Homo sapiens: one gene and its partners. Each later gene encodes a partner of the first gene's protein in a complex. Each region holds a gene or a part of one and is shown on either strand. Other genes may lie near its edges. A codon is read from its position in the direction of its gene.

Region 1 (7,022 bases):
TAGGCTGGGCACGGTGGCTTACGCCTGTAATCCTGGCACTATGGGAGGCCGAGGTGAGCAGATCACAAGGTCAGGAGTTCAAGACCATCCTGACCAATATGGCGAAACCCCATCTCTACTAAAAATACAAAAACTAGCCGGGAATGGTGGCGTGCGCCTATAGTCCCAGCTACTCGGGAGGCTGAGGCAGGAGAATCGCTTGAATCCAGGAGCGGAGGTTGCAGTGAGCCAAGATTCCCCAAGAATCAGGAAGATTGCCCCAGTGCACTCCAACCTGGGTTGACTGCGTGAGACTCCCTCTCAAAAAAAAAAAAAAAATCTTTCCTGCAATTAGTTTTTTTCATTTGACAGTTTTTAAGATCCAGCCATGTCGACATTTTATTTATATATATATATATATATATATATATATATATATATATATATATATAGTTTTTTCATTTCAATAAGTTTTTCATACATTAATATTTTTACCAACAGCTTTTAATTCTATTGACAAAAAGCAATGGCTTAATCTTTTTCACTTTTGTATCTTTAAAGGTTGTTTTATAACTCAATTAGATCCTTCCTATTTCTTTTACCTATTTCTATTAAAAGTTGTAAGCAAAAAGTTTGGACCAGGTGTGGTGGCTCATGTCTGTAATCCCAGGAGTTCAAGACCAGCCTGGGCAACAAAGAAAAATTAATAATGAGCCAGGTGTGGTGGGACACGCACTTATGGTCCCAGCTACTCAGGAGGCTGAGGTGGGAAGATTGAGCCTGGGAAGTCAAGGCTGCAGTGAGCTGTGATCAAGCCATTGTGCTCCAGCCTGTGTGACAGAGCAAGAAAAAAGTTTGATGACTTTAAAATCTGTCAGTTATCTTTCTCTTATACTTTACTTTATCATGGGTTTAATTCTATGGTTATAAACAATAAAGCATCAAAAACAGGGTAGGAAGCACTCTCACAACCATTTCTGACAAAGATACCTTATAATCTTTAGCTTGGCTTTTATTCTAGTCTTTTTTAAAACAATCGTATGCTCGGGTGGGCACCGTGGCTCACGCCTGTAATCCCAACACTTTGGGTGGCCAAGGTGGGTGGATCACGAGGTCAGAAGTTCAAGACCAGCCTGGCCAACATGGTGAAACCCCGTCTCTACTAAAAATTCAAAAATTAGCTGGGCATGGTGGGGCGTACTTGTAATCCCAGTTACTCAGGAGGCTGAGGCAGGAGAATTGCTTGAACCAGGACCCGGAAGGCGGAGGTTGCAGTGATTTGAGATCACACCACTGCACTCCAGCCTGGGCTACAGAGTGAGACTCTGTCTCATTACAAAAAAAAAAAAAAAGAAAGAAATTATATGCTTATCCTGGCTTTGATGCTTTATTTTAATCATGACCTTTTCCTCAGGTAGGAAATACAATACCACATTCATGACTATCCCATACATCAATCAGGAAAACACACTGCTACACACTCAATAACTTATATGGTTGTTCTCTACCCAGAAACCCACCAGAACCACTGTGGTTGCCTGAAAAGATCAGACGCCTGCTTCCATTGTGAGTCTGTGGTTACAAGAGTTAATGTGTATACTTTAAAATACAATCATACACATTTCTATTTGATTTCATTAAAGGACTGATGGGCATAATGTGTCATATGAGAAATGACAGAAGGCCGAAAGAATAATGATGTGGCTTATCTAGGGCCAAAGCACATTTTAGCAGTGTTTTGGTCTTCTCCCTGAGAATATCTAGCTAGATAACCTTATCTAACTAGAGGAAAAGTTGTATCAAAGATCCTCACACAGTAAAAGTTACTTGGTCAAGTTACCATTTTGTCAGATGCTTTGAAGTGATAAGCATTCTACACAGAATCAAATACTTCCCACACTATCACCACTCACATCAATCGCTACATAAATAATATTCTTTCCTGTTAGTTGTAATTTTACTCTCTGATGCTACTTCTAGTATTTGCATTCTGATTTATTCTAATCCCACCATTCTTACATAATGTTCTTTATAAACTTAAAACCCCAGCAGGGGTTTAAAAAAAAAAGACACAAAAGCAAACTAAAGAGAGAAAACCTAGCATCTCCCTTGTACTACTAACTGAATGGTGAAAGCATTTTAGTTGCTAAGCAATAGAGTTCAAGATCTTTAACAGAACACAATATTGGAGAAAACATCCAACTCTTCCCGCATCTTTTTTCTAGCTGTCTACTTGGCTAAAAATAGAAAAATGCTGATAACAGAGGGTAGAGGGTAGTCCTAATGTTACACTGCTAAATATCCTACTATACTAACCATGTATGCAGAAGTTCTGTCTACAGATTAAAAGTCACCCTTGTAAATAATTTCTTCCCCTCCCCCAAGTTACACATTCCTTTAAAAAAAAAAAAACCTACCTACAGCTTTTTTTCCCAGTTGACTTTAAAAGCTTAATTAGCATAATAAATTTTTCTTGTCATTAGTGCATATTTTATGAGTAGCAAAAAAAAAATTTTTTTAATTTTAAGCAATGAGTATCACATATGCTAAATCATTTTCATTATACTGCTAAATGTACCCTTTAAGCTGAGTGCCTTCTACCTATCAAGCACTGTAATAGGTGCTTTTAAACCTCATAACTAACCCTCCAATCTCTTGTAGGACAGGTCATATTTGTACATGGGACTTAAGCAATGACTAGAGAGAGCTTCCAAGAATCAAATTAAGACGTCTAACACTAAAAATCATGTTTTCCACTATAGCAGCTCGCTGCTACTACTACTCCTTTTCCTTTGAAATAAGACCCCCAAGGAGGTGGTAAACGAAAAGTAGACTGAACTAACGACATAGGACTTTTAGAGACCAAAAGGACTCCTTAACCAGCTTTAAGCTCTAAATCTTGTTTCTTCATTTATAATACAAAATAAGTTTGCTAGTTATTTCTACGCAACTGATTTTGTCACATGATCTATTAACTACTGCAGACAAAATCCTTTTACTTTGGGAAAGTTAACCTATTGTCCTTACAAACAAAAAAATTTAGAAACACTTTTCTTAATCTACTTTTTATTAACAAGTCAATTTTAAAACAAACCATTAAATTTCTTAATACTATGAAACATTATTAAAAGCAGTATTGCTGTAATATATTCTCAATTACAAAAATTGCCACTAATTCTGTTACAAGCCATGAAGAACACTGCTCTATGTTGGTTTATTTATCATACCTTTAGATGTAGTGAACTAGTTTAGTGTGAAGATTAAACAGTATTAGTAGCTGAATCTATGCGGAAAAAATTAAATGCCCTTTTTCCCAATGGCTACAGACCTGTGCTTCCAATATTACATTCAGAGTTGAACCCAACCTTACTTTCATAGCTTCCTCCAAAAGCAGCTGCTTTCTATGCATCCATGCTAGAAGAAATGAAGCTTAAAGCTTCATGTTGAATGTATAGCATGAGTAACAACTAAATGACAGGGATAATAAATACGGATGGTTAATTTTTTCAAGAATGCTTTAGGAGATAATATACTGATCAAAACGCCCTAAAAGTATAAACCTGGGCTAACAAGCTTACAGAATCACTGCAAGAGTAATTTTTTCTACTTTTAGCGTTTCCATGGACCTTTTTCAAGTTTCTACTATAGTAAAAGCAGTACTGTTGCATTTCATAAGGGAATGGAAACATTTATACATGATGCTTTTTGGACTACTATAAAAGATAGTACTGTATCCACCTTATATATTTTCAGAAAGTGTAATGGCACTCAGGTTTAGGTTTTTTTATTTTATTTTATTTATTTATTTTTATTTTTGAGACGAAGTCTCATGCCGTTGCCCAGGCTGGAGTGCAGTGGCGCAACCTCGGCTCACTGCAAGCTCCGCCTCCCGGGTTCACGCCATTCTCCTGCCTCAGCCTCCCGAGTAGCTGGGACTACAGGCGCCCGCCACCACGCCTGGCTAATTTTTTGTGTTTTTAGTAGAGACGGGGTTTCACCGTGTTAGCCAGGATGGTCTCGATCTCCTGACCTCGTCATCCGCCGGCGTCGGCCTCTCAAAGTGCTGGGATTACAGGCGTGAGCCACCGCGCCCGGCCGGCACTCAGTTTCTTAATTATGCAAATATAAATATCTTGACAATATAAGTAACCTCCCATCTACTAGCTGAACATTTATCTAACCAGAAATCTACTGTTCTGGCAACAAAACTACCATAAAAGATTTCTGGCCAGGCGCGGTGGCTCATGCCTGTCATCTCCACACTTTGGGAGGCCAAGGCAGGCGGATCACGAGGTCAGGAGATGGAGACCATCCTGGCCAATATGATGAAACCCATCTCTACTAAAATACAAAAAATTAGCTGGGCATGGTGGCGCGTCTGTAGTCCCAGCTACTCGGGAGGCTAAGGCAGGTGAATTGCTTGAAAACCTGGGAGGCAGAGGTTGCAGTGAGCCGAGACTGTGCCACTGCACTCAGGCCTGGTGACAGAGCAAGACTCCATCTGAAAAAAAAAAAAGATTTCTGACCCAACTGCAAAACTTTTTACTCATTCAAAAACATGTTTGGGCCAGCACGCGGTGGCTCATGCCTGTAATCCCAGCACTTTGGGAGGCCGAGTCAGGTGGATCACCTGAGGTCAGGAGTTCCAAGACCAGCCTGGCCAACACGGTGAAACCCCATCTCTACTAAAAATACAAAAATTAGCCAGGCATGGTGGCGTGTGCCTGTAATCCCAGCTACCAGGGAGGCTGAGGCAAGACAATCGCTTGAACCCAGGAGGCAGGGGTTGCAGTGAGCTGAGATAGCGCCACTGCACTCCTGCCTGGACCACAGAGCGAGACTGTCTCAAAAAAAAGTTTGGCCCCACAGGTAAAAAATCAAGTTTTTTTTCTTGTGACATATACAATTTAAAATTGTACACACATTTCTGTTTCACCTTTTAGTTGGGTTCAAAAAAACCAAAAATCTTAAACTGATCAAAATTTGGTTTATGTTTAAGATAATTCCCTACATTAACAGTACCACTTTGAAAAGTGCACAAAATTCAACTAACATAAAAATACTTGGTATTCCTGTTTTTATTTAAACAAACATATCTGTGAAGTACTTCTGTAAATGTTTTAAAAGTAGAAGAATCGTATTAGTGCCAAACATATTAAGTATATATAAAAGTACAGAGAACCTTTAATACCTACAAAGTATTTAATAACATTTGGCTCTTAAGGACAAAACAAGTATAATATTCCAAAACAACCCACTCTAACCATGTCAAACATGCAATTTCTTTCTCCAAACCAATTTTCATTATGGTTAATACAGAATTCCAAATTAATGCAAACTATGGAATATCTTTTTTAAAGGTGATAATTTAAAATTTTATTCTAAACCCAACAACTCTGTTACACTGTCATAATGTTATAAAGTTTTGGTTGGCTACTTTACCTGGGCTCCTTCTCCATGGTATAAGCAATTCACCACATTATCTAATAAGTTGATATCCAGTTTTTGGCTGAAATCAAGCAGCTGACGAGCTGCATGGTCTGCTAACATTGTCATAATTGCTGGCATAGATTACTGAAAATAAAGAAAAAAAATTGAAGCTGCCTATCAAGTTTTGGTATTATCAAAAACTTCCTACAAGTTATTTTACTTCAACCATGTTATTACAAATATTTTAATGAATACTTTAGAGACTTTAATTACAGAAAACTGAGATAGTAAAAGCAAGTAACAAAAGCTGAAATTACTTAGCTATTTGATAATTACATAAATTATTATGGTCCATTCAACTTTTCTAGTGTTTAGTTTATACACCAGGAAGACTTTCCTATTCTACTAACATTTATAAAGTATGCTAACCTATTATTTAAACGCATCCACTATTAGGATTTTATGGTCCTAAAACGTGATACAGTTCAGTATCTTGATGTCAAAACTTTTTAAGCAAGTAGGATTAAGTTCAAGTGAATGTGATTTTCTTTTCTTCCCAAGTAGGGTCTTCTGAATAACTCAGTAAAAGCTCACTTCACATTATCTTAACTTTATAAAAATAATGCTATAAAGACAGAATGGGCCGAGCGTGGTGGCTCACACCTGTAATCCCAGCACTTTGGGAGGCCGAGGTGGGCGAATCACTTGAGGTCAGGAGTTCCAGACCAGCCTGGCCAACATGGCAAAACCCCGTCTCTACTAAAAATACAAAAATCAGCCAGGCATGGAGGCGGGCACCTGTAATCCCAGCTACTTGGGAAGCTGAGGCAGGAGAACTGCTTGAACCCAGGAGACGGAGTTTGCAGTAAGCCGAGATGCACCACCACACTCTAGCCTGGGCAAGAGAATGAGACTCCATCTCAAAAACAAACAAACAAAGACAGAATGATGTTAAAAATTAAAATGTGGATATACAGTAATTCCTATTGTCTACAGCAATGGTTAGCAGGAACCACAAGTCTAACATATCTTGGTATAAATGCCCTTAGCCTCTACAGAAATAACTTAGCTTCTACACTCAAACCATTCAAATTGTTTCAACCCTCAATGAATTGGGGGATTGAAATAAAGCTACAAACATATTTACTGAATATATGATCTAGGAAAAAAAACTTTATGGGCAATATGCCTAACAAGATTTTTTAAATTCCAGGTATTCATTGGCAAGGTAAAAGCTGTAAAAGCTTGCCCATTCCCAAATAAAAAAGAATTCTAACAGAAAAATGAGCTACTTCGCCTAAATATGCACTGGTTAAAACCTACTAGTTCATATGCAGTGCTATCCTTTTAAGAGGATTCTACTCTAAGATGCTGGCACACATCCACTTTTTTGTTGCCCAGAATTATAAAATATATCTTTCCTCTGCTTTTCTTCAAAGCCAATGCCACTCAAACCTAATTGGTTAAGTCAGTAGTCCTTAACCTTTTTGGGGGTCTAAGATGCCTGAGACTCTGAGGAACCAATAGCTCTAACCCAGTTTTTAAAAACTCACGATTTTGTATACAATTATAGAGGATTCAGGACATCCTGAAAGCCATCCATGGCACTCCCA
Region 2 (7,022 bases), about 47 Mb from region 1:
CCCAGGAACAAATGTAGCCATGGCGTCAAATCAGGCTGTCAGAATTGTAAAAGAACCCACAAGTCATGATAACAAGGATATTTGCAAATCTGATGCTGGAAACCTGAATTTTGAATTTCAGGTTGCAAAGAAAGAAGGGTCTTGGTGGCATTGTAACAGCTGCTCATTAAAGAATGCTTCAACTGCTAAGAAATGTGTATCATGCCAAAATCTAAACCCAAGCAATAAAGAGCTCGTTGGCCCACCATTAGCTGAAACTGTTTTTACTCCTAAAACCAGCCCAGAGAATGTTCAAGATCGATTTGCATTGGTGACTCCAAAGAAAGAAGGTCACTGGGATTGTAGTATTTGTTTAGTAAGAAATGAACCTACTGTATCTAGGTGCATTGCGTGTCAGAATACAAAATCTGCTAACAAAAGTGGATCTTCATTTGTTCATCAAGCTTCATTTAAATTTGGCCAGGGAGATCTTCCTAAACCTATTAACAGTGATTTCAGATCTGTTTTTTCTACAAAGGAAGGACAGTGGGATTGCAGTGCATGTTTGGTACAAAATGAGGGGAGCTCTACAAAATGTGCTGCTTGTCAGAATCCGAGAAAACAGAGTCTACCTGCTACTTCTATTCCAACACCTGCCTCTTTTAAGTTTGGTACTTCAGAGACAAGTAAAACTCTAAAAAGTGGATTTGAAGACATGTTTGCTAAGAAGGAAGGACAGTGGGATTGCAGTTCATGCTTAGTGCGAAATGAAGCAAATGCTACAAGATGTGTTGCTTGTCAGAATCCGGATAAACCAAGTCCATCTACTTCTGTTCCAGCTCCTGCCTCTTTTAAGTTTGGTACTTCAGAGACAAGCAAGGCTCCAAAGAGCGGATTTGAGGGAATGTTCACTAAGAAGGAGGGACAGTGGGATTGCAGTGTGTGCTTAGTAAGAAATGAAGCCAGTGCTACCAAATGTATTGCTTGTCAGAATCCAGGTAAACAAAATCAAACTACTTCTGCAGTTTCAACACCTGCCTCTTCAGAGACAAGCAAGGCTCCAAAGAGCGGATTTGAGGGAATGTTCACTAAGAAGGAGGGACAGTGGGATTGCAGTGTGTGCTTAGTAAGAAATGAAGCCAGTGCTACCAAATGTATTGCTTGTCAGAATCCAGGTAAACAAAATCAAACTACTTCTGCAGTTTCAACACCTGCCTCTTCAGAGACAAGCAAGGCTCCAAAGAGCGGATTTGAGGGAATGTTCACTAAGAAGGAAGGACAGTGGGATTGCAGTGTGTGCTTAGTAAGAAATGAAGCCAGTGCTACCAAATGTATTGCTTGTCAGTGTCCAAGTAAACAAAATCAAACAACTGCAATTTCAACACCTGCCTCTTCGGAGATAAGCAAGGCTCCAAAGAGTGGATTTGAAGGAATGTTCATCAGGAAAGGACAGTGGGATTGTAGTGTTTGCTGTGTACAAAATGAGAGTTCTTCCTTAAAATGTGTGGCTTGTGATGCCTCTAAACCAACTCATAAACCTATTGCAGAAGCTCCTTCAGCTTTCACACTGGGCTCAGAAATGAAGTTGCATGACTCTTCTGGAAGTCAGGTGGGAACAGGATTTAAAAGTAATTTCTCAGAAAAAGCTTCTAAGTTTGGCAATACAGAGCAAGGATTCAAATTTGGGCATGTGGATCAAGAAAATTCACCTTCATTTATGTTTCAGGGTTCTTCTAATACAGAATTTAAGTCAACCAAAGAAGGATTTTCCATCCCTGTGTCTGCTGATGGATTTAAATTTGGCATTTCGGAACCAGGAAATCAAGAAAAGAAAAGTGAAAAGCCTCTTGAAAATGGTACTGGCTTCCAGGCTCAGGATATTAGTGGCCAGAAGAATGGCCGTGGTGTGATTTTTGGCCAAACAAGTAGCACTTTTACATTTGCAGATCTTGCAAAATCAACTTCAGGAGAAGGATTTCAGTTTGGCAAAAAAGACCCCAATTTCAAGGGATTTTCAGGTGCTGGAGAAAAATTATTCTCATCACAATACGGTAAAATGGCCAATAAAGCAAACACTTCCGGTGACTTTGAGAAAGATGATGATGCCTATAAGACTGAGGACAGCGATGACATCCATTTTGAACCAGTAGTTCAAATGCCCGAAAAAGTAGAACTTGTAACAGGAGAAGAAGATGAAAAAGTTCTGTATTCACAGCGGGTAAAACTATTTAGATTTGATGCTGAGGTAAGTCAGTGGAAAGAAAGGGGCTTGGGGAACTTAAAAATTCTCAAAAACGAGGTCAATGGCAAACTAAGAATGCTGATGCGAAGAGAACAAGTACTAAAAGTGTGTGCTAATCATTGGATAACGACTACGATGAACCTGAAGCCTCTCTCTGGATCAGATAGAGCATGGATGTGGTTAGCCAGTGATTTCTCTGATGGTGATGCCAAACTAGAGCAGTTGGCAGCAAAATTTAAAACACCAGAGCTGGCTGAAGAATTCAAGCAGAAATTTGAGGAATGCCAGCGGCTTCTGTTAGACATACCACTTCAAACTCCCCATAAACTTGTAGATACTGGCAGAGCTGCCAAGTTAATACAGAGAGCTGAAGAAATGAAGAGTGGACTGAAAGATTTCAAAACATTTTTGACAAATGATCAAACAAAAGTCACTGAGGAAGAAAATAAGGGTTCAGGTACAGGTGCGGCCGGTGCCTCAGACACAACAATAAAACCCAATCCTGAAAACACTGGGCCCACATTAGAATGGGATAACTATGATTTAAGGGAAGATGCTTTGGATGATAGTGTCAGTAGTAGCTCAGTACATGCTTCTCCATTGGCAAGTAGCCCTGTGAGAAAAAATCTTTTCCGTTTTGGTGAGTCAACAACAGGATTTAACTTCAGTTTTAAATCTGCTTTGAGTCCATCTAAGTCTCCTGCCAAGTTGAATCAGAGTGGGACTTCAGTTGGCACTGATGAAGAATCTGATGTTACTCAAGAAGAAGAGAGAGATGGACAGTACTTTGAACCTGTTGTTCCTTTACCTGATCTAGTTGAAGTATCCAGTGGTGAGGAAAATGAACAAGTTGTTTTTAGTCACAGGGCAAAACTCTACAGATATGATAAAGATGTTGGTCAATGGAAAGAAAGGGGCATTGGTGATATAAAGATTTTACAGAATTATGATAATAAGCAAGTTCGTATAGTGATGAGAAGGGACCAAGTATTAAAACTTTGTGCCAATCACAGAATAACTCCAGACATGACTTTGCAAAATATGAAAGGGACAGAAAGAGTATGGTTGTGGACTGCATGTGATTTTGCAGATGGAGAAAGAAAAGTAGAGCATTTAGCTGTTCGTTTTAAACTACAGGATGTTGCAGACTCGTTTAAGAAAATTTTTGATGAAGCAAAAACAGCCCAGGAAAAAGATTCTTTGATAACACCTCATGTTTCTCGGTCAAGCACTCCCAGAGAGTCACCATGTGGCAAAATTGCTGTAGCTGTATTAGAAGAAACCACAAGAGAGAGGACAGATGTTATTCAGGGTGATGATGTAGCAGATGCAACTTCAGAAGTTGAAGTGTCTAGCACATCTGAAACAACACCAAAAGCAGTGGTTTCTCCTCCAAAGTTTGTATTTGGTTCAGAGTCTGTTAAAAGCATTTTTAGTAGTGAAAAATCAAAACCATTTGCATTCGGCAACAGTTCAGCCACTGGGTCTTTGTTTGGATTTAGTTTTAATGCACCTTTGAAAAGTAACAATAGTGAAACTAGTTCAGTAGCCCAGAGTGGATCTGAAAGCAAAGTGGAACCTAAAAAATGTGAACTGTCAAAGAACTCTGATATCGAACAGTCTTCAGATAGCAAAGTCAAAAATCTCTTTGCTTCCTTTCCAACGGAAGAATCTTCAATCAACTACACATTTAAAACACCAGAAAAGGGTAAGTACTTTGTTGTTAAAGTTAAGCACAATTTTTCTTTCTTTTAATGTTTAGCTTGATGCAGACTCTTTGTAGGATACTAATGTTGGGATATAAATGATGCTTTGTGAACACCCCCAAAATATTTGAGCAATTTTTTTTCTCCCTTAATAAGTTCACGGTGAGGTTTCAAAGAGCAAGAGAACTTAGTTTAAGACATTTCAGTAACTGGAAGATACTTTTATCATGCTAGGGCAGAGCAAAAGAACTCGGTACGGTATACGGACTCATGCTTGAATCATGCACATTAACGTGAGTCTTTTTTTAAAGTGTTCATTTTCATTTGTTCAGTTTCTTTTGTCACTCAGAAAACATGATATTGAGGCTGGGCACGGTGGCTCACTCCTAGAATGCCAGCACTTTGGGAGGTTGAGGTGGGCAGATCACTTGAGCTCAAGAGTTCGAGACCAGCCTGGCCAGCATGGTGAAACCCTGTTTCTACTGAAAATACAAAAATGAGCCGGGCGTCGTGGTGCGTGCCTATAATTAGCAGCTACTTAGGAGGCTGAGGCAGGAGGATCACTTGAGCACAGGAGATGGAGGTAGCAGTGAGCTGAAATCATGCCACTGCACTCCAGCCTGACTGAGTGACTGAGACTTTGTCTCCAAAAAAAAAAAAACAACGTGATATTGAGATGTTCTCATTTTATATGTTGTATGTCAGTCTTGCTCATGTATTAAATGAGCAAAGAATGAAACTACAGGGATAAATGAATATGTAAGACAATCAGATTGGTGGTATAAATTGAGGGATTCTGGCTTTTTATGTTTTAAAAGCATATTCATTTTGTTTCCTAAAATGTTAAAAAACGAAATATTCTTTATTTTCTAGGATTTAATTTTAGCCTTTTTAAATCTAATCCCATGGCCTTTTGGACTAGCACCCCTTCCTCACAGCCTGAGAGCAAAGGTATAGAACTAGCATTCTCAGTATGAGATAACAGCAGTTTTTAGCAGCTGGGTAGCCCTTAGCAAAGTATTAATAACTGTGGCTGTATGAAATGAAGTACTTACCACTACAACATGCATGTTAAAGAATGCCAGTTTAAGCAAAGTACCTTTTGACTGGTGGCATGACACCCTTGTTGGTTTGTTTTTTAAAATGTACTGGGATGCTGATTTGTAATGTACTTCATTGCTCTGCTATTTCAGGTCTGCTCAATGAAGACCTATGTTTTATCTAATGTTTATGTTTAGCCACTAACGTCTGCCAGTATTCAAATGTAGTGGCAACGGCATGTATACAATATGGAAGAGTGTCCCTGTAGGGCTGTTCTTTTGTGCATGGTTTAGAAAAATGTTGTATTTGAAAATGGACCCCGTTTTTAACAGCCAGCATTCTACAGCTTGCATATTATATATGTTGCACCGATCAATTTTAGAAGTGTGGCTACTAGAGTGGAACAAGAAGTGGGATCTGTTGAAGGCCTTCAAGAACAGGTTAGGGAAGTGAAATCTCACCCTTAGTGACCAGTAACACATCTTAGCCATGCCAAACAAGTACAATGATAAAGTAGCAATCTCTGATTTTTTTTTTTAAGTATACCAGTTTTATTACTAGCTAAGGTAGCTCTTAATCTTTTATTTTTAAAGATACGGTCTTTGAGAAATGTGAAAAGTGTTAACTTAAAAGTGGATGTATACTTGCGTACAGTTTCTGTGAGCTCTAGGTTAGGAATCCCTGACCTAAGAATGAATGTGCCTATATACTACTGTAGAACATAGAGCCTTATTTTGTTTTGAATCTGATAATGTCATTGTCCCAAGGGACCTTAGAAATGAAGACTTTAGACATGAGTAAACTGAGGCCAAGAGAGGCTATCTGATTTACCCAAGGTGTCTTTACTGAGTAATAGCAGAAGTGGAACAAGAATCTGTATCTTACGGTGTACTGTTATTTCTCCTAGCTAGAAAATGATACTAAGTTTTTGTTTATAATGAAGGAGAGGGACAAATTTAACATTGTAAAAGGAAGGGCACTGGTTCTGCAGAGCAGTGTCATCCAGTAGAAATAAAATATAACCTGTGTATGTAATTTAAAATTGTCATTTGGTGCAATGGCTTGTGCCTATAATCCCAGTTACTTGGGAGGCTGAGGCAGAGGGATCACTTGAGCCCACAAGTTCCAGGCTTTAGTGAACTGTGATCACATCACTGCACTCCAGCTCTGGGTGACAAAGCAAGACTGCATCTCAAATAAATAAATAAATAAATAAATTTTCTAGTAGCCATATTAAAAAGAATAAAAAGAAACAGTTAAAAAGGGAAACAGATGAAAGTAACTTTATTGATAGATTTGATTTAACTTATGTCCAAAATATCATTTTAACTTCTAATTAATATAAAAATTAATGATATTTTACATTATTGTTTTTCACCAAGTCTTCAAAATCCAGTGTGTGTGTTTACACTTACTGTTAGCACGTCTTGATTTGGACTAGCCACCTTGTGAGGTTTTAATAGAATGTGGCTAGGCTACCATATTGGACACCATAGCTCTCAGAATGTTTCCCTATCACTAGTTGGTATACATGGCATGCTTCATGACTGGCTTGCTTTATTAAACTCCTTTAGCCAGAAGTTCAGAACAGGTTGCATATAGAAGTTTTTTCTCTTTCTAATTTTTTGCCCTTTGCATTGATGGTGGCTGGGGATGGGTTGTTTTTAGCCATATGAATGGTCTTAGATTTTATAGTGTTAGCTACCTATAGAGTCACAGTTGTTATTTAATTTTACTTAGTATCATGCTTGAACATAGGCAAACTAGATGCAACTCTAGTCACCTTCCATTCTTGGCAATTGTTAACTTTCCTTACAGAAACTAATCACAGTTGGCTTTGGATTAGTTTCATATGTATAGTAATACTTGCCTATGTTTTAAGATTTTTTTCAATTGCTGCAAATGCATGGATATTTTGGTAAACTATTGTATGCTAAGTATAGTTAGGCAACACTTTAAAATTTTTAACCTTTATAAATTCTAGAAATTTATAGTAATTCTTTTCAATGACTATTAAGTAAACACAAATTTTTTTTTGTTTTCTTTGGTTTTAA
Region 3 (7,813 bases), on another chromosome or scaffold:
CAGCCTCAAATCTTAAGGCTATTTCAATTGTAGTTAATGGCAGTAATGCAGCACCAGAAAAAGATATTTTGTTAGAAGAGGGCAACTTTAACTCCTAAATTTTTACTCTCTAAATATCTGGTAACACTGTCTAGCAGACAAAACTTTTTTTTTTTTTTTTACACAATTGGAGAGCAGTAGACTGACTTCAGTTCTATCTTGTCAAACACAAAAGTGCCTGCAGTTCATTTAGTATCTAATCATTTAGCATCTAATCATGCACGTCCTTCCATTTTTCATTCCTCTTTCAATTCTGAACACCAGCCAATTAGTTTTTCCTCTCCCTAGGAAACATTTTAAGGAAAGGATATAAAGTCATAAATCAGTTTCAGACATAAAATCATACATATATTTCTGCTTAGCCTTCTAAATTTAGAAACTTTCCTCAAACTTGTTTAAACACAACAAAGTCCAAATTCAGGAATCCCTTCAGTTTGATTATCTTCCTCAGTTGTACTAAAATGAAAATTAAATTTTCTAACTTGTTTTCTTTCTTCTCAACAAGATTTCTCCAACTCCAGTCCATAACTTAGTGGGTTCAACTCACCTGCAAAATCACTAGCAAGTATTATTCCACCTTAGGCAGCACCAGTCTCCTAATCCTGAACCTATTTCTTGCCAAAGAGTTTAGTTTCTTCAGAAACTAAATGATAGACACTTCGAATTTCTAACCATCATTAGGATATTCTCACGCACTTGCTCTTCAACAGAAAGGTGACTGTCAACATTACAGAAACTGCATTGTATTTCTAAGATCAATTGTACTAATCTGTATTTCATATACCTTAGGTTATTTAGAATAACTATATTAAAATTCATTATTATTCTATATTAGTATTATTCAGAATAATGATGTATATGGTTAAGTATTTTAATAGTAGAAAAAAGGTGGTAGAATACAGGGTTTGTTGTTGATCTTGTTCTTTGTTACCTCATAGTTAATGTGACTGAGTAAAAATTCTAGAATCTCAAGAAGTTAATATTTCAAACCAAAACCCTGTTTAACACATAATAACAACAACAAAAAAGGAACATAAGGTTATTAAGACCCCAAGGGGCAGTTCCTGGAGTGGATCACTCAGTAGTGGGCTTTGCCCACCCCCTACACCCTCACCCTATGCCTCATATACTGAAGATGGAGACAAAGAAACAAATTCAAATCTTTCTAAAGTGCATTTTGTAAAAACGAAATTTGTAATAGAAAGGCAATAATGATATATAATATGATTAACACGATTTTCCATACTAGTGTCTTTGCTTAAAAATAATATTTGAAGAGGAAAGAAAGAGGTAAAATTTTAAGCTACCAACTCTGCCCCTCTTTTTCATTGATCTTCTAATTTAATTTACTAAAATAAAATTGCATGGCTGTTGAGTCAGACAGTCTCTGTAATTTTAAGTTTAAAGATAACAGATCTTCCTTTAAATAGAACATTGGCACACAGATACCCCACAATCTGGCTTATTGCAACTGTTCTCTGTTGGTGAAGTGGCACGTTTGCAATCCCCATAACAGCCATCTTAACCATTTCACAGCATATTATTCAAATGTACATCTCTAGGTGGCAACAAGGATAGGCACTTGGGCTCAGTAGCAAGGGGTCTGTGGGGAAAATCCTAGGACGAGGGATAGGAACCTGCAAATGGCAAGACAAACTAGAGGATACTCAACCAGAGGCTTAGATTGGGCAGCTCCATTGGCTTTCTGACTGCCTACGAGGAAAACCTCACTGGAAACTCTTTTGAGGTTCTTGAGGAATCCTAGAGGCAAACGGACTCCTCTGCCTTTTGGAAAGGATTTGTCCCAAATCTTAACAGCTAGCTGTCTCAAAATCCAACTGGACTAAAATTGCTTCAAGAAAAACTGGATGGACTGGCATTCACATTTTTACTTCTACCTATGCCTATGCATAGGGAACATCCCTCACACTCCAGTAGATTCTATCTGTCCTCTCTAGCTTTCAAGTAGCCACAGTGACTACAGCGAAGGGAGTTAATGGGATAACATGTTGGTACAGGGCCACAAGCAGGATATTTCATTCCATGCATTTGGGGGAAGGACACAGGTAACAGTATACAGGGAGAATACCGAATAAGAAATCTGTGTGAGGCAATGCCCTTTTTGGGACCTTGACAAAATCAGTCATGGAACCCAGGTGGTGGATAAGAGCTGACGAGAGTTGGTCTGTGAATGGGCACAGCATCTCCGAAAAAGATCAATGAAATGATTGACAGAGAAAATGGCAATTGAAGGAAGAAGCGATGTCAAGTGCTGCTCAACCCAAGCTGAACTCCAGGAGATAAGAGAAGTTTCCCCTCCAGATAGAGGCTCTTTCTAAAGGTTCAGTCTTGAAGCAGGTGTTTTGCCATTGAGAGGGGCACAGACCCATTCTGATAACTGGAAAGGGAGAGGACCAAGGACTACAGGAAGAGGGACGATTTCTGATTACCTCAGGCTGCTGCCAGGGACCTACTGCTCCAAATCCTCAAAATACTCAAGCGAAGGTAAAAGGCACAGAAAGCAAAAGAGTAACTCAAATTATTTTAAATTTTGAGTCCTCTTCACTGTCTACGCGAATCTGGCACTGAAATGGTAGATCACGTTCAAAAGAGTATAGAGGCAAGAACGCCTTCTTTGTTTGCCCAGTAACACTGCTCCTCCAACCTCTGCACTTGGCCGCCCAACATTTCCATCCTAGTTGTTGCTCCTTTTCTCATTGCAGAATGCAGCGGGGTTCTCCCCTTCTTCCCTCCGTGCTGCAAACCCCATTATTAACCAAGCGGAAAGCTCCACGCAGTGCGGCCAGGGCGCACCGGTGCCGGGCTGCTTACCTTCCCCGGACCTAGTCAGCGCAGGTCCCCGCGCACGCCGCCACGGGCCGCAGTCCCGCCGCGCCCGCCGAGTGCTCGGTCAGCTCGCGCCGGCCCGCGCCCCACCTGCCAGCAGCAGCCTCCGCTCCCGCCGCGGAGCTCCGGCTGCATGAAGTCATCCCCGCCCCGGGACGGATCACCACATTCCGCGCCAGCCACGGGGGGAGCGGGGCCGCTCCCGACCCCAGGGAAGGCAGCCTGGAAACGGCGCTCGACGATCGCTGCCCCGCGAGGTTGTGGATTGATTTTCTATTAATGCTTTTACAGCTGCAGCATCGCTGGATTATGGATTGAGAGAGAAGAGCCAGGGGGGCTTTCTCTGCATAGCGTCCTTCCTCCGAGCGCTCCCCCGTCACCCCGGCTGCATGGACTGTTCCATTTGCCCCTGTGGGTTTCCCACCCTCTTCATCTTCCTTATCAGCATTGTTCATTTGGCTGAATTTGAGAGCAGGAATTGTCTTTTAAGATAAACATTCAAGCACTACAAAAACATTTTAAATTGGTAATGAAGCTTTCTAAGCCCTTCATAGCTCTCTCCATCACCCCCGCCCCCGCCAACAGACACACACGCAAACACACACACACACGCACACACGCGCGCACACACACGTATGCACACAGCCAAACCACTCACAATTTTGAAAGCTAGAACCTTTCGCCCTCTCACCTACGTAATAGAACGGGAATCTCCTAAAAGACTGGAGAAGTGGGGCCAACCAGAGAAAGCGCTCAAAGAAACAGTGGGGTGGCCCCATGATTTTGTTGTGTTTATGGTGCACTTGTGCACAGATGTTCCCTCTAACATCTCTTCCTCCTACTTCCTTTGCTCTGGACCCCCTCCCCTCCCTGCCACATAATTGGGCAAACTGTTGTGGTGACAGCTGTAACATTTGGGAATCAAAAAGCAGAGTCTACATTAGCAAATGACTATCTCTCTTTCCCTAAGGATTTATGAAAATTTGCTTTGGGAATGAAATAAGCATGTATTCATATAAGCCCTTTCCTTCTCTTTTTAAATTAACACTAGCTGTTAACAAGACTGTTCTCTCTCCCCCACCCTCCCGTTTTGCTTCTTTCCCAAATCTCTTCAGGTTTGAGGGTTGAATGTTTAAGGAAAAATGGGACTAAATTTGCTCTCTTTGTAGCTGAGCCAGGGTTTCCGCCTAGCTGTTGAGTCATTTTCCAGTCGGGAGGTTCCTTGACACTAGGGTTCTGTGGAATGGAGTTCCCTCTTTTAACTTGCCTTGCTGTTTGAATTGACCGTCACTTGATACAGGCCAGCTTTACACTATGGATTTGTCCAGCAACCTAAACAGTGCAATTGCACAAGGCCAGGGAAGCACCTTTGCTAAATGAGATGTTTCCATCCATCTATCAGTCCCAAAGTTAGGTGATAATGTAGCCAACAGCTTTCCAACAAAACTTAGTTAGAATTCTTGGTCATAGAATATATGCTCTTTGAAAGCTAGAACAGCTTAATTCATCGCTCTGAGACTCACTTTCATAACATTAGCCCGTTAATATTACCATAGAGCAGGAGATTCTTAATCTGTATAAATGGAATTCTATTCATATACTCCTTTTATACAGATTAAGTATAATGGGAAAAATCTCATTTTTAGTTTCACTAACTTCTAACTGAAATTTAGCATTTAGCATGTCCTTTAAACATAATGTAGGCAACAAACCACAAGAATGTTAGGAGTACCTGGGACTTTGTTTCCAATAGAAACAACAGCTAATTCCTTATTGCTGTTTTTATAGATATCTCTATCACTACACTGATGTTATAATCAAATCATCACTACTTTTTTTATTTAATAGACTATATTTTTCAGCTTTGGTGTCCAGAAAAATTGAAGAAATAATACAGGGTGTTCCCATATATCCCATTCCCAGTGTCTCCTATTGACATCATACAATAGTAAGGTACCTTGGTGTAATTCTGGCATTGCTATAAAGAACTACCTGAGATTGGGTAATTTATAAAGAAGGGCTGGTGGTTCTGTAGGCTGTACAGGAAGCATGATTGGGGAGGTCTCAGGAAACCTATAATCATGGTGGAAGGCAAAGGGGAAGCAGGCAGGGCCTACATGGCTGGAGCAGGAGAAAGAGAAGGGGGAGGTGCTACACACTTTTAAACAACCAGATGTCATGAGAACTCACTACCACCAGAAAGCCAAGGGGGAAGTCCTCCCCCATGATCAAGTCACCTCCCACTAGGCCCCTCCTCCAAAATTGGGGATTACAATTTGACATGAGATTTGGGTAGGGACACAAATCTGAACCATATCATTGGGTTACAATCAATGAATGTATACTGATACATTATTACTAACTATAAATAAAGTCTAACTACATTTAAGTTTCCCTGGTTTTTACCTAATATCCTTAAATCTGTTCCAGGCATCCATCCAGGATACCACACTAAATTTAGTTGTCATGTCCCCTTAAGCTCCTCTTAGCTGTGATAGTTTTTCTTGTTTTTGATGACCTTGACAGTTTTGAGGAGTAGTGGTCAAGTATTTGCTGGAAGGCCTCACTGTTGCAATTTGTCTGATGCTTTTCTTATGATAAGACTGGAGTTGCGAACTATTGGCAGGAGAAAGAAAGAGGTAAAGTCCCTTTTCCTCACATCATATCAAGGTGCTATAGTACCGATGTGATTTATGACTGGTGATGTGTTGACCTTGATTGTCTGGCTGAGGCAGTGTTTGTCAGGTTTCTCTACTGTAACGTTATTGCCCATCCCTTCCATACTGTACTTGTAGGAAGTAACTACATGAAACCCAAACCTAAGGAGTGGGACTTTGGCTCTACCTCCCTGAGGGCAGAGTGTGTACATAAAGTATATGGAATTCTGTACAGGAGAGCTGTCTATTCTCTACCAAGTATTCAATTACTTATTGATATCAATATTATAGACTTATGGAGATGTATTATATTTTATGCCTTTGGTAATAATCAATTACTACTTTATTTTGTTGTTCAATTTGTTCCAGTTTTGCCCATTGGAAGCTCTTTCAGTAGGTTCCTGTGCTCCTTTGACATACCCCCTTTGATGTGTGAGTGTGCGTGTGTGTGTGTATGGCAGGAGCAGCAGGGCTGTTAACAATCCCTTACTTTATGGTATTATAAGTTCCTCCAGTCTCAACTTGTATACTTCCTTCTTCATTCCAAGAATCAGCCATTTCTTCATGGAGCCCTTGTTCCTTTTATGGGAGAATGGTAATACAAATCAAGATCTGGGTCCCAGACACAGTCATTATTGGCAGGTCATTTTGTTTAGGCCTTTCAACTAAGACAGTGAAGAAATATATGTGTATACTTACCCATGCATATATACATAAGTATTTCTATATGTGACCATTCTGTGTCTGTATTAAGCTAAATATGAGCACATACTTATGTTTCCAACTTTAATCCTTTAACACATAGATCATTCTAGCCTCCTCCCTTTGCTTGTCTGTAAATTCCTATTCCAATAGTGAGAATCATGGCTCCCATCATTCACTGTTATAATTGTTCAATTTCAGTGTACATGTAAAGCAGTATAAAAATTGTTAACCCTTTCCCACAATATCACAATTTTTAAGTAAATATATATAACTCTCCTATACTGTGTTTAATGAGTTTAAATGCCCATACCTTTGTATATCATGAATTTTGTTTTTAAATATTTTGATAACAGTATTTTAAACTTCGTAGTTTCCTTTCCAATTCTACGTATTATATTTTATGCATTGAAAAGCATCATTTTAAGAAGAGTTATGTAGGTTGCTTCAGATTGTCAAAGGGAGCCATGGCAAAACTTAGAATACAAACTGTAGACTGTTACTGTGAGGCTATAATGAGATGGCATGAAATTGCCACTCCAGAGCTTCAGGGAGCTGATACTCTGTCAGTGTTATCCTTGCATACTTGGGCAGGCTTCTGTCCCCTTTCTCCTTTGCAAGTTCTAAATACCTTGAATGAGAGAACATGTTCAGCCTTCATAATTTATCATTTAGTTGAAGGATTTGCTAGGTATCTCATGCTGAAGATAAAAGTCCTTATAAAGTAAAGAGGCAGGAGGATGAGAAGGTGAAGAGAACCAGAAGGTTGAGATGACTGTGAAGGTTAGAGATTTTGTAGTTGAACAGACTTGGGCTTGGATCCCCACCACTCACAGCCTGACTTTGTCTTGTTTCTGAGATGAAGACAACAATTGTCTCAAGAGTGAAAGATGTTTGATCTTTTCCTTCAAGTTGCCTGAGGCAGTAGGGATGCAACTGTGGCGACTTGGGACAGTCCCAGAACATGTTTTCTTGACCCCCCAGTGTAGTTTCCATCTGCGAAGCCAGACTCACTGAAGATAGTTTCTTGTGATAATATAGATACATTCATCTATCAAAGTATTCTTATCAGGTACTTTTTATTCATGGAAAGGAATCAGTGTGTTGATGGTGTTAAAGACAACAGTCAAAGACATTAAATGGCAGGATTGAACTGCTTCTGATACTCCAGCACGGTAAGAGGCATAGGGAAACCAGAAAGAAAAGGGGAAAGATATTGGGAAATGTCTTATGTCAACATATAGGGTTTGAATCTGTCTTCTTGGAACTTTACATACAGCAATATGTAATTTTTTTTAACCTATGACTTGTTATTGCACAAATTTTTTTTTAAAAAACCCTAAACTTTGGATCTTGACTTTGAGGTCTGCAATGCTTCCTTTCTGATATTCTCAAATTAGAGATCAAATGGCCTAGTGATATCATGAGTCTCAGCAAGGGAAAATGTGAAACCAGAGCCAGAGGCCCTGTGTGCTGGGAGCTGTCAGCATTTAGAAACACTCCTTTGGGTTAAGGGAGTCCTTCCAGAAAGGACTCATTTAAATGCAAATACACTATCAGGAGGAGTA

The links. Proteins that work in one complex are often made in the same cells at the same time.
Region 2: the proteins of XPO1 (region 1) and RANBP2 are in contact, whole or in part, in a cryo-EM structure (PDB 9B62), measured with the Homo sapiens proteins. Residues at the interface, in NP_003391.1 of Homo sapiens: Trp60, Val63, Asp64, Leu83, Asn97, Gln98, Gly101, Ile102, Lys104, Tyr105, Val107, Gly108, Ile110, Ile111, Leu134, Phe149, Asp152, Ile153, Gly155, Ala156, Ser157, Arg158, Thr159, Ser160, Glu161, Leu163, Cys164, Asn167, Leu208, Phe211; in NP_006258.3 of Homo sapiens: Val2508 (codon at 3,602), Val2509 (codon at 3,605), Ser2510 (codon at 3,608), Pro2511 (codon at 3,611), Pro2512 (codon at 3,614), Lys2513 (codon at 3,617), Phe2514 (codon at 3,620), Val2515 (codon at 3,623), Phe2516 (codon at 3,626), Gly2841, Phe2842, Gly2843, Ser2845, Thr2846, Gly2847, Leu2848, Ser2849, Phe2850, Ala2851, Leu2853, Ala2854, Asn2857, Ser2858, Gly2859, Asp2860, Phe2861, Ala2862, Phe2863, Gly2864, Ser2865.
Region 3: the proteins of XPO1 (region 1) and PKIA are in contact, whole or in part, in an NMR structure (PDB 2L1L), measured with the Homo sapiens proteins. Residues at the interface, in NP_003391.1 of Homo sapiens: Val518, Lys522, Leu525, Cys528, Glu529, Lys534, Lys537, Ala538, Ala541, Ile544, Phe554, His558, Lys560, Phe561, Thr564, Lys568, Phe572, Glu575, Thr576, Val580; in NP_006814.1 of Homo sapiens: Asn36, Leu38, Ala39, Lys41, Leu42, Ala43, Gly44, Leu45, Asp46, Ile47, Asn48, Glu51.

The regions. Positions count from the first base shown.
Region 1 is NC_000002.12:61,528,351-61,535,372, forward strand, and holds part of XPO1 (exportin-1), read right to left. Parts: intron 6,329-7,022; exon of another isoform or gene 6,073-6,328; intron 5,554-6,072; 5' UTR 5,548-5,553; coding exon 5,422-5,547; intron 1-5,421. UniProt on the Homo sapiens protein: Mediates the nuclear export of cellular proteins (cargos) bearing a leucine-rich nuclear export signal (NES) and of RNAs.
Region 2 is NC_000002.12:108,764,460-108,771,481, forward strand, and holds part of RANBP2 (E3 SUMO-protein ligase RanBP2), read left to right. Parts: coding exon 1-3,929; intron 3,930-4,800; coding exon of another isoform or gene 4,801-4,878; intron 4,879-7,022. UniProt on the Homo sapiens protein: E3 SUMO-protein ligase which facilitates SUMO1 and SUMO2 conjugation by UBE2I. Involved in transport factor (Ran-GTP, karyopherin)-mediated protein import via the F-G repeat-containing domain which acts as a docking site for substrates.
Region 3 is NC_000008.11:78,511,527-78,519,339, reverse strand, and holds the start of PKIA (cAMP-dependent protein kinase inhibitor alpha), read right to left. Parts: upstream 3,001-7,813; 5' UTR 2,872-3,000; intron 1-2,871. UniProt on the Homo sapiens protein: Extremely potent competitive inhibitor of cAMP-dependent protein kinase activity, this protein interacts with the catalytic subunit of the enzyme after the cAMP-induced dissociation of its regulatory chains.